Regions from separate parts of the Homo sapiens genome. Here all the other regions are linked to region 1. The links come from fine-mapping of genetic effects on gene expression. A gene starts in region 1. Each other region holds a variant in brackets. All regions are shown on one strand. Distances are between the middles of the regions.

What was found. PIP is the estimated chance that this variant, and not a neighbour inherited with it, causes the effect.
Region 2: its variant is fine-mapped to the expression of CDRT4 in whole blood (TOPMed, PIP above 0.99). The same link has a PIP of 0.9 or more in spleen and testis.
Region 3: its variant is fine-mapped to the expression of CDRT4 in whole blood (TOPMed, PIP 0.99).

What each region holds. Positions count from the first base shown.
Region 1 is chr17:15,465,329-15,470,555 of GRCh38, forward strand. CDRT4 (CMT1A duplicated region transcript 4) reads right to left here and starts at 2,293. Exons shown (of 4, transcript NM_001204477.2): 1 at 2,132-2,293. The region is part of intron 4 of TVP23C-CDRT4 (TVP23C-CDRT4 readthrough); the gene reads right to left. CDRT3 (CMT1A duplicated region transcript 3) reads right to left here. Exons shown (of 1, transcript NR_146601.1): 1 at 4,983-5,227.
Region 2 is chr17:15,499,300-15,504,526 of GRCh38, forward strand. The region is part of intron 4 of TVP23C-CDRT4 (TVP23C-CDRT4 readthrough); the gene reads right to left. It also overlaps a transcript of TVP23C not described here. Among named protein-coding and RNA genes, the nearest start is that of CDRT3, 31 kb to the left of the region's middle. The variant CA/C (reference allele first, on the strand shown) is at 3,065.
Region 3 is chr17:15,578,149-15,583,375 of GRCh38, forward strand. It overlaps a transcript of FBXW10B not described here. Among named protein-coding and RNA genes, the nearest start is that of TVP23C-CDRT4, 17 kb to the left of the region's middle. The variant T/A (reference allele first, on the strand shown) is at 3,112.

The DNA of each region.
Region 1 (5,227 bases):
CATGCACAACACAGACACATACCAACACCAGACACACCAACACAGACACACATAACACACACACCAACACACACACACAACACACACCAACACAGACATACACCAGTACCAGACACACCAACACACAGACACACATAACGGAGATACACATCAACACCAGACATACAAACACAGACACACACAACACAGACCCACACCAATACCAGACACACCAACACAAACACACACAACAAAGACACTTAGGTACAAACACACACACCAACACACAGACACACATACACCAGCACAGAGATACACACCAAGACATTCATACAACACAGACACACACGCACAAAGATACACACAACACACAAAACACACAAACACACAGTCATATCACAAACACGGAGACACATATGCCTACACATGCACAGACACGCATGCTAACGCCTTCCAATATGGCAGCCAAGGGGCTCTTGCTGTGGTCAGGGAAGAGGGGGAGGGAGCCTGGCCATCCACCGTGGGGAGGACATGCAGCGCGCATCGTGAGGACTCCAGACCCCTGAGGGTGGTAGCAGCAGGAGGGCAACAGAGGATCCTAGAGTTGCTGCACCTGGGGGCAGATCCAGTTGTTACAGGGCCTGAGCATTCTACAGCTGGTGGGGAAACCCTCTTTGTGCCCTGCACAAGTGGTAAGCACTTAGAAGACATCCCTGAAGGAGGGAGAGAAAGGGAGGGAGAGGGAGGGAAAGGGAGGGGGAGGGAGGGCAGAGCCTACCAGGAAGCCTGGAGGAAGCCTGCGACCTGGGACCCAGGTCAGCTCCCTGACCCAGGCCAGTGGGTGAACTGACAAGTGACAGAGTCTGGATTTGAACCCAGGGACTCGGCTGCCCATGTTCTTAACCTGCGTCACCTATCTGCCTCTCTCATACTGACTCAATGTAGCTCAAACAAGTGTAAAGCAAGAGCTTCCAGCACAAACAGTGGGCTTCGGGCTCAGGCCTCCAGAAACACTGCCTGGGGTGGGAGCCTGGGCGCTGGGCCAGCTTCCACCCAGATGGGGAGAAGGGAAGGGCTGCCTCATCTGCAGAAACGAGTCTCTTCTGTTCTCTTCTCCCCACCCCTATCTACACCAAGGTGCATTCATGGATCGCAAGGTTTCTTACTAATTTTTTGTTTCATTCACTGGTGTCTTTTATTCCTTGTTCTAAATTACTTTTTTTAATTTTTACTTTTATAGAGACAGTCTCACTGACACCCAGGCTGGAGTGCAGTGGCACGATCATGGCTCACTGCAGCCTCAAACTCCTGGGCTCACACAGACACACACTCAATACAGACACACACCTGGACTCAAGGGGCCCTCCTGCCTCAGCCTCCAGAGTAGCTGGGACTACAGGTGCACACCAATGCCCAGCTAATTTATTTTTATTTTTATTTTTGTAGAAACGGGGTCTTGCTATGTTGCCTAGGCTGGTCTTGAGTTCTCGGCCTCAAACAATCCTCCTGCCTCAGCCTCCTTAAGTGGTGGGATTACAAGCATGATTAATTATTTTTAAATAAGTGACTTGATTATTATTGTTTTGTAAAAATCCTCTTAGTCACCTTTGTCCCTATAGGTTTCTATAGGTGCTTAATAATTTTTTAAAGGTATTTACCAGTTCTGGCTAAACATTCCTTTGGTCCTGAGCTCTGTGGAGAGGTAATGCATCTGTGGGAACATCATCACCCTCATCCCCAACCCATCACCCCCAGGGGATGGGGGGGAACGGGGGTATATTTTGTGTGTGTGTGTTTTGCTTAAGTAGAGTGGTCAGCCCTGAGTGTACAATAGAATCACCTGGCTGTCATTATAGACATACCTGAGCTCAAGCCCTCTGCAGACAAAGTAAATCAGAATCCTAGGAATGGGACGAGCTTGTTGGCAAGGGTTGGGCATCAGTACGTTTTACAAAGTCCTGAGGGGATTGGGTGACCAGGATTGGGATCCACTTAAGGGAAGTAATGCTGGGGACTCTGGGGACCCTTTAATGGCAGGATTATTCTTTGATGAAGGACCTGACCTTCTCCTGGAAGTTGAGTGTGAGCCTTTTCACTTTCACCCTCGACTTCCCTCTCTGGGGACACCCAGTGTTCTGGCCCAGACTGTTACCTGAGAAGTTTCTGTGATTCCCCATCCTTCCTGCACTATCTTGGCTGTTCCCCTGCCCGGCGTTTATATTTTGTCTCCAGCTGTCCCCTGTGCTCTCAATCCCACTTCTCTTTGGCTCTCTCTTTGCTGCAGCTAACCATCCTCTTGCCCCTGCCCCAAAGTGACCCATGAGCCAGAAGTCAGGAGTGAAGGGGGGCACTGTGACATCAGAAGTTGCCATGCACCCCCTCCTGAATCTTCTGCCCTGCTCTCTTCCTCCTCTGCAGGCTCAGCGGTCACCAGCAATGCAGTCCTCAAACACGGACATTAGAGTGATTATTCCCACCCCCAAGAGTGAACACCTACTATGTGCTGGACCCTAGACCAAACACATACACACATAAAGATACACAACACACACACATGCACACACACACACCCCAACATGCATGACCTCATTTGAGATCTCTGATCATTTCAACAAGCAGTTACTCTGGCCCAGACGCAGCCAACTACAGAGATAGACAAGACCTGTGGTCTCTTTCCTTAGTGCCAGAATCTCCTAGAAGGTCTATTAAGACAGATTGCTGGGTCCCACTCCCAGGGTCTCTGATTCAGTATATGTGGGGTGGGGCCCAAGAACTTGCCTTTCTAACAAGCTCTCAGCCTTCTTCTGAAATAAAATCCTCTTTAGATAAGCTGGAGAGAGAATGGCTGTCACTAACAGGCTGTTGAGAATTAGCCTCCTTCTCCCCAACTCCATTGACCGGCCAGTGCTTGGCAATGGAGAGAGCGAGCAGCTTCTAACCTCCCCTGTGGCCCCAACCGTGAAAAAGTCCCCAAGATGCCAGGAGGACACAGTGCAGAGCAGGCTGTAAAGTCTGGCAGTTTAATTGCAGTCATCAACTCGGGGCAGCACCAGGAGACAGGCTGGACTTGCTCTCCCTGTGTTATCATCATGCCCTGTTGACAATCCTTTGAAATGTCTCTCCCTGTGTCTGTTCCTTCTGCTCCTCTCCACTCCCCCACCACCTCTCCAATCCCAGAGTTCAACCTGTCCAGCCAGGAATGTAAAGTCCCCTCACTTCTCTGCAACCACAGCAAGCACTTGAGCTTCCTCCAAATCATACTGACTCAATCATATATTTCCCACGATCTCCTTTTCTTCATAGTTCTCTATAATCTTCAGAGAGAGGTGCATTCTAGAAAAAGGCCAGGCAGAAAACACCTGTGTTTCAGCCTCAGTTTTATCATTTAGTTGTAAGAAAACATACATCAAGTGGATCCCCAACAAAAATCTACCTCTCCTCACTGCCCACGAGTCAGTACCTAGAGCCTCAGGCAGAGCCCTCATTGCTGCGGTTCTCAAAAAGCCTTTCTCTATCCTCCCCTCTCTCCAGGCTCTAGTTCCTCTTCAACTCCAGCCCTAAACTCCCTGAATTCATTCTCGCTCTGGAGCTCCCGTGTCAGCGGAGCCATGCCTTCAACCTTTCCATGGGCCCCTATTTTGTGGCTCAGTGTCCCTGAGCCCTGAGTATCTCCATTCAGTTCTTCAAACAAGTTCTAGACAAGGGAAGGATCTGAGCAAAGTCACGGAGGTGCGGGACAGCCTGGGCGTCTGGAAATGCTACGGGAAATGCACAGGTGAGGGGGATGGGGGGGAGTTGGGGTGGGCCAGTCTGACAAGGTTCTGCTCTCTCTCCCAGCAAGTCTGGGGAAGACAGTGGACATCTTTGAGTGCACAGGCCAGGTGTGAAGTGTAGCGGATGAGCAGGGGACCTCCCCTGTGGTTCCACAAGAACCTCCAAAGACTCACCCCAGAAGTCTTCTGCAGCTTGAAGTGACTCTCTGAGCTGCTTATACCTAGCGCTGATGTGCAATGGGCCAGGGCCCGGCAGGGAGCCAGACCCTCGGACTCGAGAAAGCCATTTGAGAGTGACATCAGCCCACCACCTGCTAGTGCGCACTCACAGTGTTTCCGGAAGCCATGATGCTAATCATGTCTGTTTCTGTGTTGTCCATGGCAAGACTCCAAGCCCAGAAAAGAAAATCTGTAGCCCAAGTTATTTTCCTCCCACAGGGCTTGCCTGGCCTTTGATTGTTGGCTTTGGGGAGGTGCATTTCTCCCTCCTCTGTGGGCAGCAAATTCCCCGTGAGTCAACAGATCCTGTATCTGGGCTCACCATGGGCTTCTACTGGCACTGAGAAGGGGCAAGCTGAGCAAACATGCAATGTGACCCCAGTGCTGACCAACCCAGAGATGCCCCATGGGACTCAGGGACTTGACCTCAGTGCTTCTGGGGTCCCTCAGTGTATCTTGCTGGCCTCAGCACTGGGCTGCTTGGTAACCTCCCCACAGGCAGGTACTAAGTGCAGCCAGCCCCTTCATTCAAGGCAGAATGAATTAAAAAGCTGGGGTTCCAGAGTTGGCTCCAGGTCACCCATGCACACACCCCATGCCAGGTACTGCTCTCAACTCTTCACACACTAGCTTATTCTGGGCTCAAAACTCCCAGGAATACCTTCGAGGCAGTTTCCACTACTCTAATCCCCATTTTACAAAGTGATGAAACTGAGGCACACAGTTCAGTAAGTTGCCCACGGATACACAATTCATAAGTAGAAAAATCAAAGTGCAAATTCCAGAACGTACACCACTAAGAAGGGGCCACGAGGCAGCTCTCCCCACCTGAGAATCCCCCTGAAATCCATGGTGAGCCTGCCCAGAGCCCCCACCCCTACCCAACTTACATTGGCTGCTCTTCCTTTTGCCCCAGAACCCCAAATAACTGGCCAAATGGACTCAGGTGTATCCCTTTGGCCTCCACGCTCAAGTTTTATATGAAAAAATAAAAAAACACAGAAAAAACTCAATGCGTTAGGTCAGTTTATTAACTCTCCCTCTTGGTCCCCAAATTGCCTTTCAGGGTGTTGAGCAGCTGCACACATCACCCCTTCCTCATGAGGTCCCCTTGGCCCTTTACCTCCAGCTGAGTAAGTCAAAGGAGGACATATGATCAAACCAGGTAGTCCACCGGCTGACCTCTGACCTACAGCCTAGAACAAAAAAGAGGACCTGGGCCAATCCAATTATCTCTCAGGAACGCAAAAGGAGGT
Region 2 (5,227 bases), 34 kb after region 1:
CTCGCCTGCCCTGGCAACAGGTTCCGAGTGTCACCAGCACTGCAACAGCCCCTGTGGTGTGCTGGGTCCTCCAGGCTCACTCTGGCCCTTCTGATGCCCTAGCCCCTTGGGCCGCCTTCTAAGGAGTCCACCTGTCCTCTTCACACCAAACGGACCTAATTTACCCAGGTAGAAAAACTCTCAGTGGGTGTCTCCAGGGTACCGTCCCCACTGTCACCGCATCATATTCTAAGCCAGTGGGTGAACAACCTCGGTTCTGGCTCCCCTTTTAACGTGATCAGAGTCTGCCCATGGGCAAGAAAACAGACTCTGTCAGATCATGCATTCTTGTGTTGCTCCTGCCATAACTTTGACCTCCAGCAAATCACCCAGTGCCTCAGTTTCCCCACCGTAAAAGTAGCTCAGAAATGTGATGACTCAAGCCCCCAAAGAAATTCTGGGTAGTTTTGTGTGTCTTCAACACTGCTGAGTGTTTTTTCCAGGTGGCTGGATGACAAATCTTCCTCTAGGATATGTGGGGTTGTAATTTGCCCTCAGAGATGCAGGTGCCCCAGGAGTCTCCTTTAACAAATGAAAAGCCGGTCTCTGCCACATGCCAGGATGCTTGTGAACATCACAGAGGCCACCCGAACCCTATCACAGACCTTCCCTGCTCTGGTGGCTATTAACTCTCCTTCTGAGAAAAACCTCTGAGGATCGGAGCCCACATTTTGTTCAGGGATCCAGCCTGGGCTATTGCCCCAGCTCCAGGAAAGAAGGAGCTGCATGCCTTCTCTGCTTCTATTCTGATTTTTTTTTTTTTTTTTTTTTTGAAGTGGAATCTCGCTCTGTCGCCCAGGCTGGAGTGCAGTGGCACGATCTTGGCTCACTGCAACTTCAACCTCCTGGGTTCAAGCGATTCTCCTGCTTCAGCCTCCCAAGTAGCTGGGACTACAGGTGTACGCCACCACAGTCAGCTAATTTTTGTATTTTTAGTAGAGACAGGGTTTCACCATATTGGTTAGGAGGCTGGTCTTGAACTCCTGACCTCGTGATCTGCCTCTAGGCCTCCCAAAGTGCTGGGATTACAGGTGTGAGCCACCACACCCAGCCCATTCTGATTTTTTAAAAACTGTCCCACATATCAACCCACCATGTTACCACCTGTTTTAACCAATTTGTATTGGAAGTAATGGGCAGAAAGTGTTAAGCTGTGCCGCATATTATGAAATATGACCAGCCCACCCTGGAACACTTTGCAAGGCTCTATCACCTCCACATCCTACTTAACCCTTATAGCTGTCCCAGGAGAGCCCACTCCCTCCACCATTGTATAGACACAGAACTGCTGCACAAAGAACAGAACATAAGCAATTTGGTCAAGATCACTGAAGCAACTGGGATTCGAACCTAGGACTTGCCTGACTCCAAATCCCAGCTATTAACACTTCACTCTGCCTCATCAGGGGGAGAGAAAAATTACATAAGCCAAGGAGAGGTGGTTACATGGAAAGCAAATAAAGAGGAGAAGTGAGTGATCTCAGCCATGGAAGGTTGACAATTCAGGCCATGCAATATATGCTTATTATTATGGTAGACTTCCTATTTGACCTCTTTGAACTTGTGAGATCACTTTAATTCTATAATTTACTTATTCATTCTTTCACTAAGAATTTGCTGAAAATTTATCATGTGTGAAAATGTCTTGTAAACTCTTTTTTTTTTTTTTCCCTGAGACAGAGTCTTGCTCTGTCGCCCAGAGCTGGAGTGCAATGGCGTGATCTCAGCTCACTGCAACCTCCGCCTCCCAGGTTCAAGCAATTCTCCTGCCTCAGCCTCCTGAGTAGCTGGGATTACACGCGTGCGCCACCACACCAGGCTAATTTTTGTATTTTTAGTAGACGGGGTTTCGCCATGTTGGCCAGGCTGGTCTTGGAATCCTGACCTCATGATCTGCCCACCTCGGCCCCCCAAAATGCTGGGATTACAGGTGGGAATCACCGCGCCTGGCCACAATTATTAATTTTTAAACCTGGTGAGAGATGCAAAAGATGTCTGCCCTTAAGGAATTTATAACTTGTTGAACCTAGAATACATATTTCCCTTCTTAGAACAAAAATCAAGCATCTTCTAATAAAAGTGGGAAGGTACAGGATGTAGCTAAAGCATTTCTGTCAGGGTTTTCCCACTGTCCCTTCCTGTTCATCACTGTCCCTTCCTGTTGACTCATTTCAACTTGGGATTCACTATGACCACTAGATCCTTTTCCTCTCTATTTCTCTTTAAGTCCATTCTAACCACCTGGACATTATTTAATCCCAAATTCACAATGCCCACCTTCCCAATCTTTAACTGACTTGGTGAGCTATTAACAAGAGTTCTATTTGACCCAACGACTCACGGAGGAAAGAAGAGAACTTCACATTTGTGGGACTGGCCACAATATGCACTCAGGAGCTGTAGGACTAATGGCCACTCCTCAGAGAGTCCTTGGGGTAAGTGAGGCATAACAGAGAGGCTAACTATAGTAAGTAAGTGGGCTGAGCCTGGCCTGGTTGCTCTCAGCCTTTTCCGCCACTCATTTCCATCAAAAGACTGCCTTTAGGAGCAACGGAGGTTAATGAAGCTGTCCACAATGGGGCAGCCAGCGGTAGTGCGACTGAAGTGGAAATCATGTGAGTTAGGTGAAAAAGTACAAACTGGCCTGATTCAGGGAGCTGCCACCCAGCTGGAGAACAGGTGTTACCTCTCAGTGGGCAGAGCTGCACAAGGCCAGATCCTCTCCCTTCTTAGTCACGAAGGTGCCCTCTGGCTCCAAGGGGAGGAGAGGGAACCAGACCTCACTCCCCAGGCCTCAGACCCCCCATCTCTCTCCATGTCCTTCCCGCTGTGACCTCCTTCAACGGTATAATCACTCAGCCTGTTAGGCACTAAGTAGTAAAACTGGTCAACCTTTAAAACCACTTTTCATTACGAAGGCCCAAAAAAAGATAAAAGATGAAATTTAATGGGGGGTGGGGGGGCACAAGAGGGTGATTGAAAAAAACACAGATAATTTCTGGAATTGGATCTGTTAAGCCTTACA[CA/C]TTAGTCCCCGCCCTCGGAAGTAAGGGCCTGTCATTCTGTAAAGGGACGCAGCCACACGCAGAGAAGGTGGAGGTCTCCACCCCTTCCCTCTTCGTCCTCGCCTAGGAGGGACCGTGGTGCCAGTAAAACAGGGACTGGCTGGCCCAGAGCCTTGGGGATCCCCTCCTTTGTCTGGAACCCTCTGGCTCACCGCATCCTTCCTCGGGGCCGCATGGCCCTGCCCCACAAAGCAGGCGTGCTGGGGGCTGCTTGGCCAGGAAAGCGGACGCTTGCAGGGACCACGCTGCTGCCTCTCTTCTGCCCTTTTCCCCTTAGTTTTACAAGTTCCCTGTTCGTTCGTTCTTTCTCTCTCTCCTCTCTCTCTCTTTCTCTCTCCTCTCTCCCGTCTCTTTCTCTCCTTCTCCGTCACTCTCTTCCCTCCCTCTCTCCTCTCTCCTCTCTCTCCTCTCTCTCTCTCTCTCTCTCTCCTGCGAGGAGCTTCAGATTTGTGGGTTGTTTTTAATGCATTCCGGATGCCAGATGAAATTTTGGCCCGGGCTCACCAGTTCCTCTGCTATTGGGACTCTCCCCACCTCCCCTCCAGGCCCAAAGCCGCAAGGAGAGAAATAGGCGGGCGGGCGCCATCTGTTGGCAGTTGCCTGGAGCCGCACGAAGAGGTGGAGAACTAAGGCGGGGCGCAGGTTTCCAGTAAAGAGCTCGATCCGTGATCCTCGTGAAAGAATTAATGTCTACCTGATGAAACTTCCTCGAGGGATGGCCCGGGCAGCGGCTCACGCCTGTTATCCCAGCGCTTTGGAAGGCGGAAGCGGGAGGATCTCTTGAGCCCAAGACTTTCAGACCAGTCTGGGCAATGTGGCGAGACCGTCTCTACAAAAAATAAAATAAAAATAAATTAGCCAGGTGTAGTGGCGCGCCTGTGGTTCCAGCTACTTGACAGGCCGAGATGGGAGGATCGCTTCAGCCCAGGAAGTCGAAGCTGCAATGAGCTGTGACCACGCCACTGCACTCCAGCCTGGGCGACAGAGCAAGACCATGATATTTCAAGAAAAGTCCTTGAGGCAAAAGGTGACCTGCTTTAGAACGCCTCAGTGCTTAGACATGAACAGTGAAGGGGACTGAAGATTGTTGGAACACGGTGCAGAACCCTCTTAGTCTCGTTTTGTTGCCTTATTATGTTCTATTTCAACTTTCAAAAAAAATTGCTGGCATTAGCATGTCGAAAAATTGGTGACATTAGAATGTCAAATTCTTTGAAGGATGGGGATTTTTGCATTCAGTTTTGTGTTCACCAAAATAAGCTAGCAGGAGATTCTGTGCAAGTTGACTTATAAGTATATGGTTTGCTGAAATCTTATGAGGAGAGGGAAATGTAAAGTAAATGAAGTGGAAATAAGTGGTTGTTATGGTTAGGAAAAGGCCATCGTAAGGCTTCATGGCTAGCATGCAGGCCACCGAAGTTCTATCCCAAACAGAAGGAAGCTCTTGTAGGATGGTGAGTTATGGTAGGGTTCTAGGAGGAGTGGGTGTCAGCCTTTTGGGAGGGGGAATGGAAGGGCTGGGAAGGGTGGGAGGAAGTGAATGAAGTTCCAAAGCCAGGAAGCTAGGCACAACCCTGTGAGTAGTACCAATACCTAAGGATGGTTTCTCAGGGACACTCAGAAAAAAGAGCCCAGTCTCCTGAGAGCAAGCATGCAGCCCTATCCCCACATTTTCCCCTGAACATGGTCCTGTCCACCAAATCAGGCCTGAGGATCCTGAAACACCTCCAGGCCCTGGGCCCTCACCCACTAGACAGCCCAGGAACCAGGAGCCTAGGCCTGAATAATGGGAAGCTCTGGTACTGGGCTTTATATTCCTGCATTTTCAACAGGAACAAGACTATGATGTGTGGGGTTTCACACCCTTTCTCCCTCCCTTTTCCTCTCAGAGCCACCTTTGTCTTTGCCAATTTGTCCCTGGGGTTTGGTGACACAGAGGCAGTGGCCAGAAAAGAGAGGCAGAATTGAAGTCGTGGTCATGGGGCTTTTGCTTCTGGACAAGGCTAAGATTTACTTGGATATGAACATAAAAATAAGGAGTTGCTGGAAGAGAAGAGCTGCGCTTTGGATGGGTTTATTAAGAGTTGAGAGCGCGGAAGATGAGGCAGCTTTGGAAATCAGCT
Region 3 (5,227 bases), 110 kb after region 1:
GAACAGATCAGAGATGGCAAAATAATGGCCAATAGACCAAATCCTGAAGAAGCATTTTTTGTTTGGCCTGCTGTGCCAGGCTGGTCCTTGTAGATGTCTGCATTTGTAAACATGGTCCCTGGCCAAAGGTCCTGGTCCCAAGGGGCAGGTAAGGAGATGGAGTAAGAGGTCAGCACTATACCTCCGGGTAGCTGCACGTGCACGCAGCTGCCAGTCTCCAAAGCAGCAGAGATGGATAGTTTTATTTCCCAGCTTCATTCTTTATAAATTGTGTTTTATTTAAGCTTTTCAAAGACTCTTTAAAATTCATTGACCCTATTTGGTGCAGGTGAACAAAGCTATTTTTTAAGTAGAGTCCTATAAATTAAAAATAAGGAGGCAGATCAGAGAATTCAACTATCTGGCTCAATCAGGAGAAAGGAAAGGTATGTGTCTGTCACGTGGCAGGCATTGGGTGTTATGGGATCCAGGAGTAATGGAGGGATTCGGTAGTTGGTCCCTGCCCTCAAGAAATTAGAAAAACAGACTAAGAGATTGGACTACAATGCTGGAAACTCTGATTTTCGTAGCTGGGACAATAGGAATCACTCCTCCTTAAAAATTCCTAAGTCTTTGTACAAATTACCCTTAATTTAAGATGAATTGGTGTAGCATAATTCAGGGGTCACCACGTACTCCCCTCTGAATAAGAAGGCTGAATCTCAGTGGTCAGCAATGAGGGAGATTCATTTTGGTATTTTTTTCTTTTTTCTTTTATAGGCAATCTTTCTTCTCTTCCTTCTAGATTAACAGGATTCTTTCAGTCAGCTTTCAAAACTCATTCAGTGTAGATCTGGTTTGTTTTCTTCCTTGAAAAAAATTATTAATATAATACCACAGTCTCTGCACCGAACATCATGATGCATGCCTATAATCGCAGCTACTCAGGAGGCTGAGGTGGGAGAATCACTTGACACCAAGAGTTTGAGCATTTTTTAGAGATGGGACCCCATTTCTTAAAATAAATAAATAAATAAATAAATAAAAAGGTGTCTGTGTGTGTGAAACCACAATCTCCACGTTCTGAATGTAATTATGCCAAATATATTTTCTTCTTACATTCTTTGCATTTCTTTTAAACATGTTTTAAAATTTAATTTTCTTTTAAAATAGGTTTTGTTTTCCCATTTTCTTCACAATTTCCTTAAGTTCTGAATTTACATCAGTCATCTGCCACTCTACAATATCTATAACTTGAGACATGTTCAGAAATAGAAAACTCCTAAATAAGATTCTGGGGAGACATTTTCAAAACAGTTTTCTGTAGAGGCTTTCTCCAGAAACTCATTTCCAAGCTCCAATGTGGGATTTACACGGGAAATTAAAGTTAAATTGTCTTGATTTGATTAAGGTTTTGCATTTTCTTTTGTTTTTGAAGAAAGGATATTTTATTTTGTAATTTCAAAGTCATTTATTGTGGAAGAATGACCAAGAAGTATGAAATTAATTTTTGTCTAAACTAATTACCTGCAGAGCTGCTCAAAATATAAAGCTTTCTTGACTTAACATTTCATAGGCTTCTCTGAGACATTACTTAACAGAAAGGCCACATTTTTCCAGGAAGTTATTTAAAAGTCAGGTAATTTAAATTACATTTATTAAGTGCAATAAATAGGCACCAAATTAAAGCTTGTTTCTCTCTTATTTGTTCTTAATTTCTGTAGAAAATTATACTTTCGTAGAGCTATGTAGGGGCTGATGTTTAGTAAACAAAACAATGTTATATTTAAAAAGGAGAAAAAAATAATTCATAGAAATGTGTGGACCAATTTTTCCCCACTCTCAATCCATCAGTTTCTTTTCTACAGTAGCCTTGGGCAGGAAAGGCAGAGGTAGAAAAATCTCAAGCAGTGATGCTCAGTAGAAAGACATCTTAATTTAAAATGTAATTCAGTTTTGTATATGAGTTTTGAAATAAATCATCATTCAACCCTCAGCATGAACCATGAACCGATTTGCATGCGTGAGTGAATGAATATAAAAGAATTTTTTTGTTCAAGAAAATTAGTCTTTTTCTGACCACCCCCATCAAATAGTGCTGTTTTTCTTATTCACACATTTATTCTGTGTTGTTGAAAATTAGAACTTTTTTTGCAATATTATCACACCTTGTTCAACTCTATTTCAGATTGTTCTTATATAAATTCAATCCAGCAAGAATCACTCACAGAGATTATTAATTCCTCTGTTCTTAATAAAAGGCCATTACAGCTACTGTTGCAGCAGTGCAAGAGCACCAACGTTTAAAAAACATGTTTTGTATGTGATCAATCTAGCTTTTCAATATACCACTTTTTGTAATTTGGTATAATAAAATTAAATTGTAAGTAAAATTAAAATTGAAGATAAAAATAGTGGTATATTCATGTCTTTATAAGTCTGACAAAATAAATCAGGGGAAACAATTTATGGCAAGTTTATCAGCCCCTCCCTCCAGCTCTATTTAAATAGGTCCTTCCTATTTAAATTATTCTGTCTTATTTCATCTGTTCTTTCTTGTAGCTGATTTTACAATTGGAGAGTTCACGGTAGTTACATGTGTTTGTTTAAGGTCTGTCTTCCTTTCTAGACTAAACTCTTGCTGTTTTGTTCACTGCTGTACAGCTACACTTAGCATAGTGGCTATCTAGGCAATGAGAAATTTTAATGAATGAATGAATGAACAAGTCAACACTATGTGCTCATTTAACAAGCACTTTTTAAGTGCTTTATTTACATCATTGTATTTAATTCTTAAGACAACTCTATAATACCTCCCATCTTACAGATGAAGAATCTAAGGCCAACAGATTAAATAATTTGCTCAAGATCACACGGCTAAACAAGTAGAAACCCGCCTTCCCTATTGTCTTTTTATTGAGCCTTTACCTAAGCAAGTTTGACTTGAAAGTTTCAGTCTTGCCATTGAAAGAGCCATAATACACCCTTTCAGTTGAGGAAACCAAGGACCAGAGAGGTTAAATAAGTTACCCACTTTTAAATAACTAGTTAACTTCAGAGTCAGAACTAGAATGCAGACCACCTGATCCTACTCAGCATGCTTAGTTATGGTTCCATGAGGAAACCAGAATT[T/A]AGCACTAATAATAAAAAGTATTAAAGTATTTTTAAAACATATTTCTTATGAAAAATCCCAACAGATGGAATAGTAGAGCTCACTCTACAGTGGACCCTCAACATACTCATGGCCCAGAATCAACAACTATCAAGACTTTTACCACACTTGCTTCATCTTGCCCTTTAAGTACTTTTAATGATCAAAACACTTGTAGCTGTATGATTAAATTAAAACAAAGTAGATAGTGCAGGTAAGTCAGAAGTCTAAGGATATATCCAAAGTTCCTCTGCTAATTGATAACAGAGCTAGTTCACAGCCCTCTATTCTTCCACTAGAACATGCCAAGAGATATATAATGAAAGACAACTGAAAGTGGATGACCTAACCAGGCCGGCCGCAGTCAGCACTGGAGTGGAGCGGCTTATGTTGGCTCAGCATATGTAGCTTGGCCAGATGGGGACCAGCATCACATTGGTAATGGTATAGTAGTTATCAAATCTCAGAGAGCTTCCAGACCACGTGGATTCCTAACAAGTTCCCAGGTGATGCTGATGGTCCAGGAGCCACACTTAGAATCATGGTGTGGAGGATCTACCCAGAAATTCCAATGAGGCCCTCTTTCCTAAGGTAACTGAGCCCAGAGACACCCAAGAAGGCCAGCTTAGCCTTTCTTCTCCTCATCTTGCTTCTAGAAACCAGATGTCAGAGTAACACTTGAACTGGAAGCAAACTGCTAAGGAATTTAAATGATAAAAAGGAGAAAAAGGACTAATAAAAAAAACATATTTCACAAAAAATTTAAATATTGAATAAATTATGAAAGGAGAAAACTCAGGTGTGTATGTGTGTGTGCCTGTGTGCGTCTCCAGGCTTGGGATGCTTTCAAAAATCCATCTAGGAATGGGAAGAGCCGATGGTTTTTGTTTTTTTAATCAAAGGCTGAATGGTATGATTAAGAGAAAGAGTATATAGACTAATTGACCTAAAATAACAAGAAATCAGTCTTTGACATAATAGTGTTTGAGATCTCTGAGATTTAGCTCTGACCACATTTTATGAGCACTAAGGCAGAAAATCATAGTTGTGTTTAACTGAGATGAAAAATGAACACTCTTTTCTAACCTTTTTCTATCTAAAAGATAGATCTCTTGATTAAAACAGCTAAACTTCAACAACCTGAATATAACCATGATATTTAAAGATTTCATGGCAAATCAAACTTAATAACCCACATATTAATTGATATATTCTCTCTTTATTCCAAAACCATTATTATTGCTTGTCCTCTTTCTACTTAACAGTTCCAAAGAGAGTCCTTTACTTTTTTTTTACTGATGTCTCATTGTATACAAATATTCTAAAGAAAATCCTCTAGTTACCCCTTTATTTAACTTTTTTCCTCTGCCTTATTTCAAACAAGAGTTCAAGTAACTTGCAAATATATGTAAAATGTGACAAAATAGTCCAGAAAAAGAAGACTAAGAAGAGACAAAGTGGAGCCAAGAATAATAGAACTTAAAGTGCAAACCATGATCACCCTCATGTCATTAGACCAAAGAGCCGTTCAGTGGGAGAGGAGGGCCCGCTCTCTGCTTCTAATGTGCTCCACCAATGCATTTTAGGAAATCTGGAAGATAGATTAAAGATACAAGCTAGCTGAAGGCTGTTTCTCTCAACGAAGCATTTGATAAAAATTATGTGGTGGTGTGCCCACGATTCTTCTTCCTTTAAAATGCCTAACTTGAGCCTCTCTTGGTGAGGTGAATTAAACAAATGCTTGTCTCTCTTTGCTGACTTCCACATGGCAGGCAGAGTAGTCCTTCTAAAAAGCAGATCTGATCATTTTCTTCCACTTTTTAAAATCTGGAAGACTTCACTGAGTCTGCATTTGCCCAGAGGTCTCTGTATGTGGCCTTCCTAATTTCTGTGCTCTCTTGACACCTCCCACCCTCATTCTACTCTCCAGATATGTGGAACATAAACTTGCCATTCTTCTCCTCTTTGGCCTTCTCACACGCTGTTCCCACTGCCTGCAACTCTCTTCTCCACCCTTTCCGCCCATCTCCCACCCATCCATCGGGTCTCAGTTTACACATCACTTCTTCCTAGAAACACCCCCTGTCCACCACCCAG